Linked DNA regions of Homo sapiens: region 1 is linked to region 2. The links come from fine-mapping of genetic effects on gene expression. A gene starts in region 2. The other region holds a variant in brackets. All regions are shown on one strand. Distances are between the middles of the regions. Region 1 overlaps KIRREL3 (kirre like nephrin family adhesion molecule 3). Region 2 holds the start of KIRREL3 (kirre like nephrin family adhesion molecule 3).

Evidence for each region. PIP is the estimated chance that this variant, and not a neighbour inherited with it, causes the effect.
Region 1: its variant is fine-mapped to the expression of KIRREL3 in whole blood (TOPMed, PIP above 0.99).

The regions. Positions count from the first base shown.
Region 1 is chr11:126,463,852-126,469,221 of GRCh38, reverse strand. All of the region lies in intron 5 of KIRREL3 (kirre like nephrin family adhesion molecule 3), which reads left to right. Among named protein-coding and RNA genes, the nearest start is that of KIRREL3-AS1, 77 kb to the left of the region's middle. RefSeq lists enhancers at 1,831-2,378, 2,379-2,928, 3,476-3,535. The variant C/T (reference allele first, on the strand shown) is at 2,372.
Region 2 is chr11:126,998,052-127,003,421 of GRCh38, reverse strand. KIRREL3 (kirre like nephrin family adhesion molecule 3) reads left to right here and starts at 2,652. Exons shown (of 17, transcript NM_032531.4): 1 at 2,652-2,967. The coding sequence starts at 2,913. It overlaps KIRREL3-AS3 (KIRREL3 antisense RNA 3), which reads right to left and starts at 512. Exons shown (of 3, transcript NR_040078.1): 1 at 1-512.

The DNA of each region.
Region 1 (5,370 bases), 530 kb after region 2:
TCCCCGTGGGCTCAGGAGCTGGCAGCCTGAATTTGGATCCGGGCTCTGCCACCTTCCAGCTGCGTGACCTCACCTTGCCGTGCCTCCCTGTCCTTGCCATACAATGGGAACGACAGCAGCACCCACTTTAAGGGGTGCTTGTGAGGAGTTGAATGAGAAACACGCCTGGCACATAGCGAGCTTGCAACAAGCACTGCTGTTGGGATTGTCACCCCCTCACTGGATCCACACGGCTGCAAGGTCCACCCCACTATGGACCTCGCGTTTCCCATATGCAGACATCGGTGTCATAGTTAGGCTGGCCACATGGTTCTGAAGGCCTAGCTCAAACCTGGGATCCGTAACATAACATGGTGATGTCACCCTCTGCCTCAGTTTCCCCAGCTGCAAAATGCAGTGATAATGATCACGGATGTCTGTTAGGGTTGCAGAGTGACTTACAAGAAATTATGCATCAGAAGCACCCTGTCAAGGGCAGGAGTAAGGACTGGATAAATGTGAGCTACTATTATTGGCTCCTGTCCCACAGGGGGAACCCCAGTTCCCTGCCCCAGGGGTCATACAGCTATTTCATAAAACACCAGGCCTGTTCTCAAAGTTTCTGGGTTGCTCACCGACCATTCTCTCTGTGACTCCACCATGGGACCAGTAGGGGAGGGATGAGCCTCAGCCCTGGAGGGCACCAGGCCCCTTCCCCAGGAGGAAGGGCAGGAGAGGAAGCACCCAGTCCCTCCCCCAGCACAGGCTGGCCATGCTTCTCCTTAACAGGCCACTGTCACAGCCTCCAGGGTGCAGGGCGAGCCACACTGCCGGATGGGGCCTTGGGCAGTGCCCACTGCAGGCTCCCAGCGGGTGTCGGCTGCAGAGGCACAGAGCAGGAAAAGGCCCCTCCAAGCTTCTTCCTGGAGACTCAACCCTGGGCTGTCTGGGGACAGTGGGTTCCTTCCCTGTTCCTCATACTTCTGAGGGCCTGGCGCCAGAGTGGAGACCACATTCTTTCTTCTGGAAAGCCCCCAAGTCCACACAGCAGGGGAGGAAGGATGGGTTACGGAAGAGGAGGGGCGAGAGGACAGGCTGAGCCCAGAAAGAACCCTTCCTAAGTGCAGCTTCCTGCCAGGCAGGAGGGTTGCAAGGTCTTAGCACGCACAGTCGTGTCTGTGTCTGCTTGGAGCCCCTTGCCCTCTACCCCTACCACCAGGACCACTGGCCTCGCCTTTTACCACCTTTGCTAAGAGGAGCTCTGGAGACCCCACTCAGGAAAGGGATAAGTGCCCACATGCATAGGGCCCTCACCCTCCACTGGGCACCCCCTCCCTGGTCACTCACCCATCACCCTGCACCTATCTGCCCAGCTTAGGGGCCTAGAGTCTCCACTGGGTGTGGCCGAGGCTCATCCTGGCCTTCTCTGTGAAGGGCACCCCTCTGGCCTCTGGCCTCAAGGCTGGATGCAGGGACTGGGGCAAAAAGCACTGCGCATCCTCCACCTGGCCCACACACCCTTATTCAAGCCAGGTGGCAACCAGCCCATGGGGAGCCCCAAGCAGCTATCAAAAGGGGAAGCAGAGCCATGATTTTTTAAAAAAAAAAAAAAAGGGACCCAGCAGGTGGGGAAGGTGAGTAGCGGGGAGAAGCGAGGCGGCCTTGCTGCCAGGCAATCAGGCTACTCTCGGCCTTTCCAGACGGTTTGCCTGTCATCGGGCACCCCATATTTAGCACCAGTGCTTGGGCCCCCACCCCTTGTCTGCCCTCCAGCCCACCCATTTCCGAGAGCTCAGCCTGGCTCTCCACTGCCCAGAGGAGGCCCTGGGGGCTTTGGAAAGAGCAGAGTGGCCAGCCACTGCCACCCAAGCAGGAAAACCATGGGGTGGGGTACACTGTGTACAACCATACCTGGGAAGACCGGCCTCCCAGGCCGGTGCTGGGGAACTAGAGAAGTGAGTGCCAAATCCCTGCCCTTAGGGAGGGGCAGTGGGGGTGGGTGCACAGCCCTGAGGCGGCACCTGAGCAGGCAGCGTCCAGAGAGAACCTGGGGCCCCGCAGAGTCACGGCAGTCAGTGGACAGAGGCCCATGAACACCCAAAGACAAAAACAGGTACGCGCACATACCCACGGGGGTGTATGCCCTGGCACGCTCGTTCCCGGACACATGCTGCACACACGCCATCTATATGCCTGCCCCTGGCCCATATCTGCACACACAGGAGCTGGGTCCTCGGGGACTCTTGGGAGCCACCATGGCAGTCACATGGGCAACCTGGGCGAGCCGGGGGCTGGCAGCACGTTAGTGCTCACCACACTGGAGGGAGGCCTTGGAGGCGGTGGCTCCCACAGTGAGTGGCCCACCATGAATAACTCACTTCCTTCTGGAGCT[C/T]ACCTGCAAGGCATGAAGCTTTCTGAAGCAGGAGGTGGGAGGTTCAATGCCCATGGTGTGTCCCCAGAGCCAAGCTCAGTGAAGGGAAGCAGGGAAGGGAGGGGCGGAGTGGAGCTGCGACTAGAACCTGCAGATGATAGAATGTTCTCCTGGACAGTACCTTCAAGGCTGCAAAGTCCAGAGGCTCCATTTGCATATGAGAAAAGTGACAATTAGGGGAGATTCATTTCTGAAAAGGAGTGAAGCAAAAGAAACAAGAGAGGCGAGATCAGAAAGGAATGGGGGAAGAGAAACCCGGGGGTGCAGATCCCCCGTGCCCCTCCACATCCCGCCCTGTCCTGCAGGTGCAGGGCTCCCTCCAGCCTTCCCCCTGGGCCCCCCAGCTCTGTCCCACCTTCCTCCCCTCAGTCGTCCTGCAGCAGAGCTGGCAGACCCAGCCTTCCTCCCTGGGATACCCGCTGCACGGGGCCTGGGGTCCCCCGCGAGCTAGGGGCCCAGGAGGTGCTGGGACCTTCCACGGGGACAGAGAGGGTGTTGGTGCTGGGGCACGTGCCTTCCCCTCACCCTCCTTTTGTTTAATGAACACATCTCCCTTTTTCTCTAATTAGGTGGAACAAACAACTTGAACCAGAATTTTTATTTCCCAGAAAAGCACACGCCTGGACCCAGTAAATATGTCATTAATCATCATTCCGAGGCGGAGGAGCACGCTGGGTGCAGGGAGGAGGGGGAGCAGTCAGAGGGCCTAATTAGAGCTGGGTCCCCTCCCTCCCCTGCCACTGGCACCCACCGCCCAGAGCCCATCCGTTGGAAGGGCTCCTGGCAGAGTCAAGCTTATGTAAATGTCCCTTGTTAGCACAACGGAAATGTAAAGAAGAGAAGAAGAATACCAACCTGCTCCTCACCACCTCCCCGCCCCTGCGCGCCCTACCCGAAGTCTTAGTTTCATCCAGGAAATTGTTCTTATTATCACTTGGCTATTTATAGACTCGATGAGGTCTGCTGAAGAGCCCAAGGCAGGGTGGTAAAGCGGTGCCAGCTGCTGCTCCCTCCCTGCCCGGGCTTTGGCTTGGGGTTCAACTTCACTCCTCTGCAGTGGTCCTGCCCCCGGCTTGCTGCATCTGGCCACGTCACTCTCCTCCAGCCCCTCTGCCCAGGGCCGTGGCTGGCACCCTGAGTCCCAGGCCTGCAGCTGCACCGCGTGGCTCTCTAGAATGTCACAGTCCGGCTTTGCCTCCAGCAAGATGTGCTGTTCTATATAGAGGCTCTGGCCCTGTTCTCCTGACGCCACGAGGTTTGCCCCAAGTTGAGAAAAACCTCACTGAATTAAGGACCCAGAATGTGGGGTTCTAGGAGCTTACAGGTTTCTCCCTGTGGCCCTAACTGTTCCCATCTGTCCTGCCAAGAGCACGGTACCCACCGTCCAGCACCCCCGGGGCTGCAGCAGAGGCTGTGGCTCAGGGTTCACCCATTCTTAAGTGCAAATCCTAGCTCCACCCAGCAAGTTCCCGGCTCACTTGGAACACAGGTTTCTCTTTGGCTAATCAAAGATAATGCTGCTGTCTTCCGGGGCCCTCATAAGAATTAGAGACATTGCCATTGTCACTTTATGGGAGGTTTTGAGGGAGGAGTGGTCTGTTCATCTACTCCCTGGCTCCAGTCGGGGGAAACAGGACTGCACCCATAGTGAGGTTCCTTCCTAGTACCTCCTAGTAGCAGAAGCCTTTGCATACTGACCAGACCCCAATCCCAACCTGGAAGTGCACCCCCACACACACTCAGCACACCCTCCCCGGGGTGCACCTGACTTAGTGCGCCCCAAAGTGATGGGGAAGTAGCTGCAAAGAGGAACAGGAGAGGGAAGGAGGTAGCAGCCACAATGGGGAACTAGCTTCGGAATGACATTGTGGCCCAGTAGAGAAAAGCAATGACCTGGGAAGGTGGGAGACCAGCAGTTAAGATGGGTTTGCTTCCTAGGGCTGCCATTACAAAGCACCACAATTCGGTGCATGACACAACAGAAATCAATTATCTCACAGCTGTAGAAGCCAACAAGTCTGGAATCAAGGTGTCAGCAGGGCTGTGCCCCTCCAAAGGCTCCAGGGGAAAATCCTTCCTTGCCTCTTCCAGCTCCTGGCAGCTCCTGGCATTCCTTGGCTTGTGGCAGCATCCCTCCAATCTCTGCCTCCACCTTCACCTGGCCTTCTCTGTTTCTCTCTGTCTTCTCCTCATCCTCCTCTTCTCCTCCTCCTCCTCTTCTCTTTCACTTTCTCTTTATCCTTCTCCTTCTTCTTTTTCTTTTTCTTTTTCTTCTTCTTCTGAGGCAGGGTCTCACTCTGTGGCCCTGGCTGGAGTACAGTGGCACAACCTCAGCTCACTGCAGCCTCAACCTTCCGGGATCAAGTGATCCTCTCACCTTAGCCTCCCAAGTAGCTGGGACTACAGGCACAAGCCACCATGCCTGGCTAATTTTTTTTTAATTTTTTTCTTTTTTTTTTTTTTTTTGGTAGTGACAGGATCTTCCTATGTTGCCCAGGCTGGTCACCAAGTCCTAGGCTCAAGCAATCCTCCCACCTCAGCCTCCCAAAGTGCTGGGATTACAGACATGAGCCTCCACACCCAGCAGACTCTCTTCTCTTCTTCCAAGGACACCAGTCATTGGGTTTAAGGCTCACTCTGAATCCAGTATGACCTCATCTCAAGAGCCTTAACTAATTACTAATTGCTTAACTAAACTGCAAAGACCCTATTCCCAAATAAGGTCATATTCTGAGGTTCCTGGTAGACAAGAATTTGGAGAGGACACCATTCAACCTGCTGTAGGAGACTAGTACTTATTTCAGGACCAACTTGAAATGTGAGTTTGGTCAAGCTCCATAGCCTCTGTCTAGCCCACCTATTTCCTCCCCTATCCAATGGGAGATAATGGTATCTGTCCCACCTATGGTTTGATTGAGACTCTAATGAGATCAGGGAGTGAAACGCTTTGGAAAGTTGAA
Region 2 (5,370 bases):
CCTCCCTCCTCCTCCCTCCCCCGGAGCGAACCGCGCGCAGGCAGCCTTGCAGCGCCAGGAGGCTAACCGAGCCCCCGGAGGAGGTGAGGCCGCGGGCAGCCGGGCGGAGATGGCGGGGCCGCCGTCGAGGCTGGCGCCAGAGCCCGACCGGCTGTGGGTCCTGCAGGTACTGCTCGCGTTCTCTGCCCCACGTGGTGGCTGCTGAAGATTGCCGTGGGTTTTCCGGCACTCAGGCTTGATACGCCTCCTGGTCCTTTTAGAGGCGGGCAGCTCATCACTTAATCCAAGCTTTTTTTTTTTTCTTTCTTTCTGCGGGAGACCGGAGGTTACAGGGAGGGAGTAGAGGGGAGTGGAGAGGGGAACAGGCCCAGCTGGCTCGTTGGTGGGGGTGAGGGGGATGCCTGGAGCCAGTAAGGGGGCCATGAGGCCAGTGTTGGGGGCCAATGGGAGAGCGAAACAAGATCCTTCCAACCTGGATCTCCCAGGCCCCCCTCTTCTTTCCAAGAGTCAGTGCGAGTGTGGAGTGCAGACACCTGTACGTGTGCCTGATTATTGCGTATTGCACACTTCACTAGCCTTGTGACCCTGGTTTTGTAATAGTTCCCTCGGGGGCTGAATTAAGCAAATCTGGGCCCTGGGCCATTGAGGAATTAGCACTCAAAATTAAACAACAGCTTAAAGGATAAATCTTTAGTTAAAACGTCAAATGTTGCTACCTTTGATAGAGAATCTGCATTCTAGTATTTGTCCTATTCCCTGCAAGAATGGCACGCAGACACCTGAAATTTCTCCCCAACAACCCCATAGGCTTAATGCAAAGCTACTACTAAGGTGACGGCGCTATACATAGAGTTATTTTCAGTCTTACTGTGTTATTTGGCATATGTTATTTAAAATTATTTTTCATCTCCTCTGTGTGTTTTTGATTTGCCTCTTCCATTTATTGCATGATCTGTTACACCAGGCTAATGGACTCAGGCTCAGCTGACACTGCTTCAGTAACTTGTTTGTTAATTTAGCTAATGGGCTGCCTCTTTTGTGTCCTTTTAGTTTCTGTTGCTCAACATTTCTGTTTCTCCTCCCAAAGTTTGCTTACAAATTTCCCTTTGCTGTGTTTAACAGCCTCTAAGGGATGCAGTTAAATAAACTATTAAGTTAAGAATAGAAAAGTCAACAAAGCAGACACCTACTAATTTGTAGATCTTTGGTGTCAACTACCAGATGTCAGCTCCTACTAGCACACTTCTATATGCCCCTGCTTCTTTCTTTCTTGTTCACAAATACCAAGGGATAATTTTTTAAAGTTAACATCCGCATGGAAACTTGGAGTTGGAATGTGCCTTGTAGTGAGCAGAGTCCTCAAAAGATGTGCTACTACTGAAAGAGGAAAGGCTAAGAGTTTCCCAAAAGACCTCCCCAAGGTCCAGGGACTGAAGACAGTAATGACTGATTTTAGAATTGAATGCTAAATGGCACATGTCAGGGGAGCGTCTTTCATTTTCCTCTCCTCTCTCTTTACCTCTCCTTCTCACAGTGCATAACGTTGAATATTTTTCTGTGTTGTTTTGTTATGTCCTTAGAGTTTGCATCTTGTGTGTGTACTCTGCTTGCACACTAGATTATGAGCTTCTGAAGGCATGGTCTGTGCCTATTATTTTGCTTCCCTCCATGGCCTGCTTATACCAAGCATGCCTAAATGTCTATTAAGTAAATAGACCCAGATAAATTCATGTTGATATCCTGGAGGAAACCGAGTTTGATTTGAGTGTGGAGTGTGAATTTCATGACAGGTAAAAGGCTTGAAGATCCTTAGGACGCAGTTGTCTATGACCTTGGCCTCTCCTTTGCAATTGGACTCACAGCACCTCTTGGAGAAAAGACAGGCTCAGAGTGATGGAGCGCTCATTAGAGGAGAGGCTCTGAATGCAAAGACAGGCTGCTCCCCTGTCCTCGTTAGGAAATGCACAAACCAGGATAATGATAATAAATGGGTGTGTGTCACAAGCCTACTTGCCTTCCCTTTAGTTCCTGCATTTTGTCTTCCAGGAGCAGTGCAAAGCAAACTAAGATCCAAATGTTCAGGTTTTATTACCTACCCCCCCCCCCCACCACAACCACCCACCCACCCACAGGAAACTCTCAGAAATGCAAAGCATGCTTATCTCTTCTCCAACTCCGAGCCTCCCGCTGCACACATTGGCCAAGTCCTTCCGAGGGAAAGATGCGCACCCCCCCTTCCTAGTTCCCTTTCAGCCCAGTTTCCAGTTCCTTTGCAAAGGCAGGGCGTGCATGTTTTTGTGCACATGCATGTGGATAGTCATCCTTAACTTCACTGTTAAACAGGACATCGTGTGGACAAAAAGTCACAGCTCCACTCCAAGCTCAAGATGCCTTTTGGTCAATAATGGTGACAAAAGCTGAATTTTTCCCTATTTAGGGAAAAGAAAGAACACAGCCTTTTCCCCCACTGTCCGTTTTGCATAGATCTCCTTTTTCCGAGTGTTTCCTCTTTAATTATGACCTGTCTCCCCTCCCTCTCCCCTCGCCTCAGCTTCAGTGAAAGGAGTCCTTCTGTCACTCGTCACTAGCTCGCTCGCTCACTGTGGGAGGAGCCCGCCTGAGGAAGCCGTGTGCCTGGGATGCCAAGAGCCAGAGAATGGATCTTCTCCGAGTGGGGACATTGCTGACAATCCCGGCTTCCCGAGGCGGCTAAGAACAGGCAGTTTGTGTCGGCTGGCTGCAGATACCCAGAGGCACAAAGAGACCGAAGCCACCCGGAGGGACCCACGGACGGACAGATGGTAGGCGCGAACCCGAGAGGACCGGCGGAGGCTGAGCACCGAGAGCCGCCAAGGAAGAGAAACTAACCACAGCCAAGTTACCCCGCCGGCTTTCCTTCGCTGCGCTAAGGAATGAAACCCTTCCAGCTCGATCTGCTCTTCGTCTGCTTCTTCCTCTTCAGTCAAGGTAGGACCCCTGCGCTGCTGGAGTTGGAAGAAAGTCGGCTGGGTTGTCAGGGCGCGGGAGGCTGTGGGCAGGAACGTGGGCAGGCTTCGGGAACTCGGACTGATGGATGCGTCTCTCGGTGCCGGGCTGAGATGCTCTGGCATTGCCTCTTCGCCTTTGCGAATGCAACAAAATGGTACTGTTTATTTTCCTTTGGAAAGAAGGGGTATGGGAGGGGAGGGGAATGACTTTCTCCTCTCACTTGTCAATATCCAGCTCAAACTCTCCAATGCAAATGAGTTCTTTATGCTTCTGGTATGTTAATTAGGTAGTATCTCTGTGGTTATGCCGCTCTGAACTTCTGGGCACCTCCTCTCCTTCAGACCCAGGCCAGGGAAGGAGACGGCAGGGAGGGAGAGCTTGGTTTAGGTGGATATTTCAGCTTGAATAGGGTTTGACTTGCACAAGTGTATTCAAAAGCGAATGTGTGTGGTTTGCACCGTTGAAAAGGGGGTTGCAATTACAGAATGTATTGTGGGGGGTAATTTGCAGTGGTTGGGAAAAGCTTGTAAAGAGTTTCATTGAACGTCATCGAGTTCCCTAAATTAGGTTGAATTCTGAATCCTACACAGCACTGAATTCAGGGTATAAAATGAAATTTCGCCCGTGGTGCTGATGGTTTCCTTTCTGCAGCCTAGCAGGGGCAGAGAAGCAGGTGGACTCTCCGGAAAGAACTTTGCCACCTCTAGGCTCCTTGCCACTGGGAGCCCTGGGGCTGGTAGTGGTGCAGAAAGGAGAGGGAAATTCGGGAGAGGGAATGTGAGTGCCTAGTTGGCCAAAGGCATCAAAAGTCACCTGTGGAATTGAGTTTGGAGGGGCAAGTACATGGGCTCCTTCCCGCTCTTTTGGAATGCCAATGCACCTCTGCCATCTGAGGCTGCATTTGTGCCAGCCAACACAGCTCTTAGAGGTGCAAGACTCAGAAAAAATCCACAACAGAGCACGTCCATCTGTTGATTAAATGAAGGGTAAAAGTTTTCGAGAAAGCAAAGCACTGCCATGGGTGGCTGGCTTTGCAAGCAAACAGCATGTCTTCTGTTTCTCCCCTGTCGGGGAGAAGCCAAATATAAGCAAAAACCTGGCTTCCTTCTTCTGCTCTTCCACCCGTGCTTGTGGTCACTGCAGACTTTCTCCTTATCTGTGCAGTTCAAACTTTGCTTCTGGTCCTCCTGATGAAACCGAAGGGGCTCCTTCTTCATATTTGTATGTGCATACTAATGCCTGTGTATAATGATAATGTATGTACACACACACACACACACACACTCATGTATTCATATGGTTGTGTGCTTCTCACCAAGGCTCCCTACAGCAGCAGGAAGATAAATTGCCTTCCCCAGAGTTTCAGGCTGAATGAATAAGAACTCTCTCAGAACACTGGTATAGAGACAGGTTCAGTTATATTACCATTTGGTAAGATTACCCTCTTTCTTGGATGTGTATGTGCTTGCTTATGAGCACACACACACACACACACACACACACACACACACACACACTCCCATTCGTCTTTGCTTCTTACCAGTTCACTCAGGAAGTTTTGATATAGAACCCCTGAGAAGGAGGGAATCTTCCAACCAACCCCCCGTAAACACACAAACTCACATTTGCATGGGACCAGTGCATGCTTTAATCAGCCTTTTGTGTAGTTAGAAGCTTGATCCGTGATACTTATGTAGATTGGCATAAGAAGGCTATAGGTGTCTAAGTACCTCCCTGGCCGTCTGAATCATTACAGTGTACATCTTCTGTTGTGCTTATTTCTTTCTTGGTCTGGAGCTGTTTCTTGACTGCTTCATGTGAATCTTTAAATATTTACCTATGGAGGTTAAATGCTCTGTTTTATCTACCCCGAGTCCTGAGAGCGCTAGGAAGAAACCATAACATCATGCAGTTCTTAATGCCTTGTGCTCCTGGAGTGTTCTGAGCTTGGCCATCACTGTCCACCCTACCAAATGGTAGATACCTGGTCCAGAGGCTGGAAAACAGGTCTAAACAAAAATGAGGAGACCCAAGTGGACATGGCTGGTCAGATACCCTGCATCCCTGTACATGGTGTGCTTCTTGAATAGACAGTGTCCGACTATGGGAATCAAGGGGTCCAGCCATCAAGTGGGAAGGTGTTTTATGGACTTCACTGCAATGTGATATGGTTATCTTTTGCCTTGATCTGTGGAAATTTGTTTATGTGGATGTTGTTTTGAGCATTATGAATTCCCCAGAGGATTCTATTTGACCATCCTCACATATATGCTTAGCTCATGTACTGTGCCCCACCTCTACCCAGTGTCATGCATTCATCAACTTATTGGATAGAACGCATCCATGTCTAACAGGTCCTGGGAGGTCTAGCCCACATGGCTC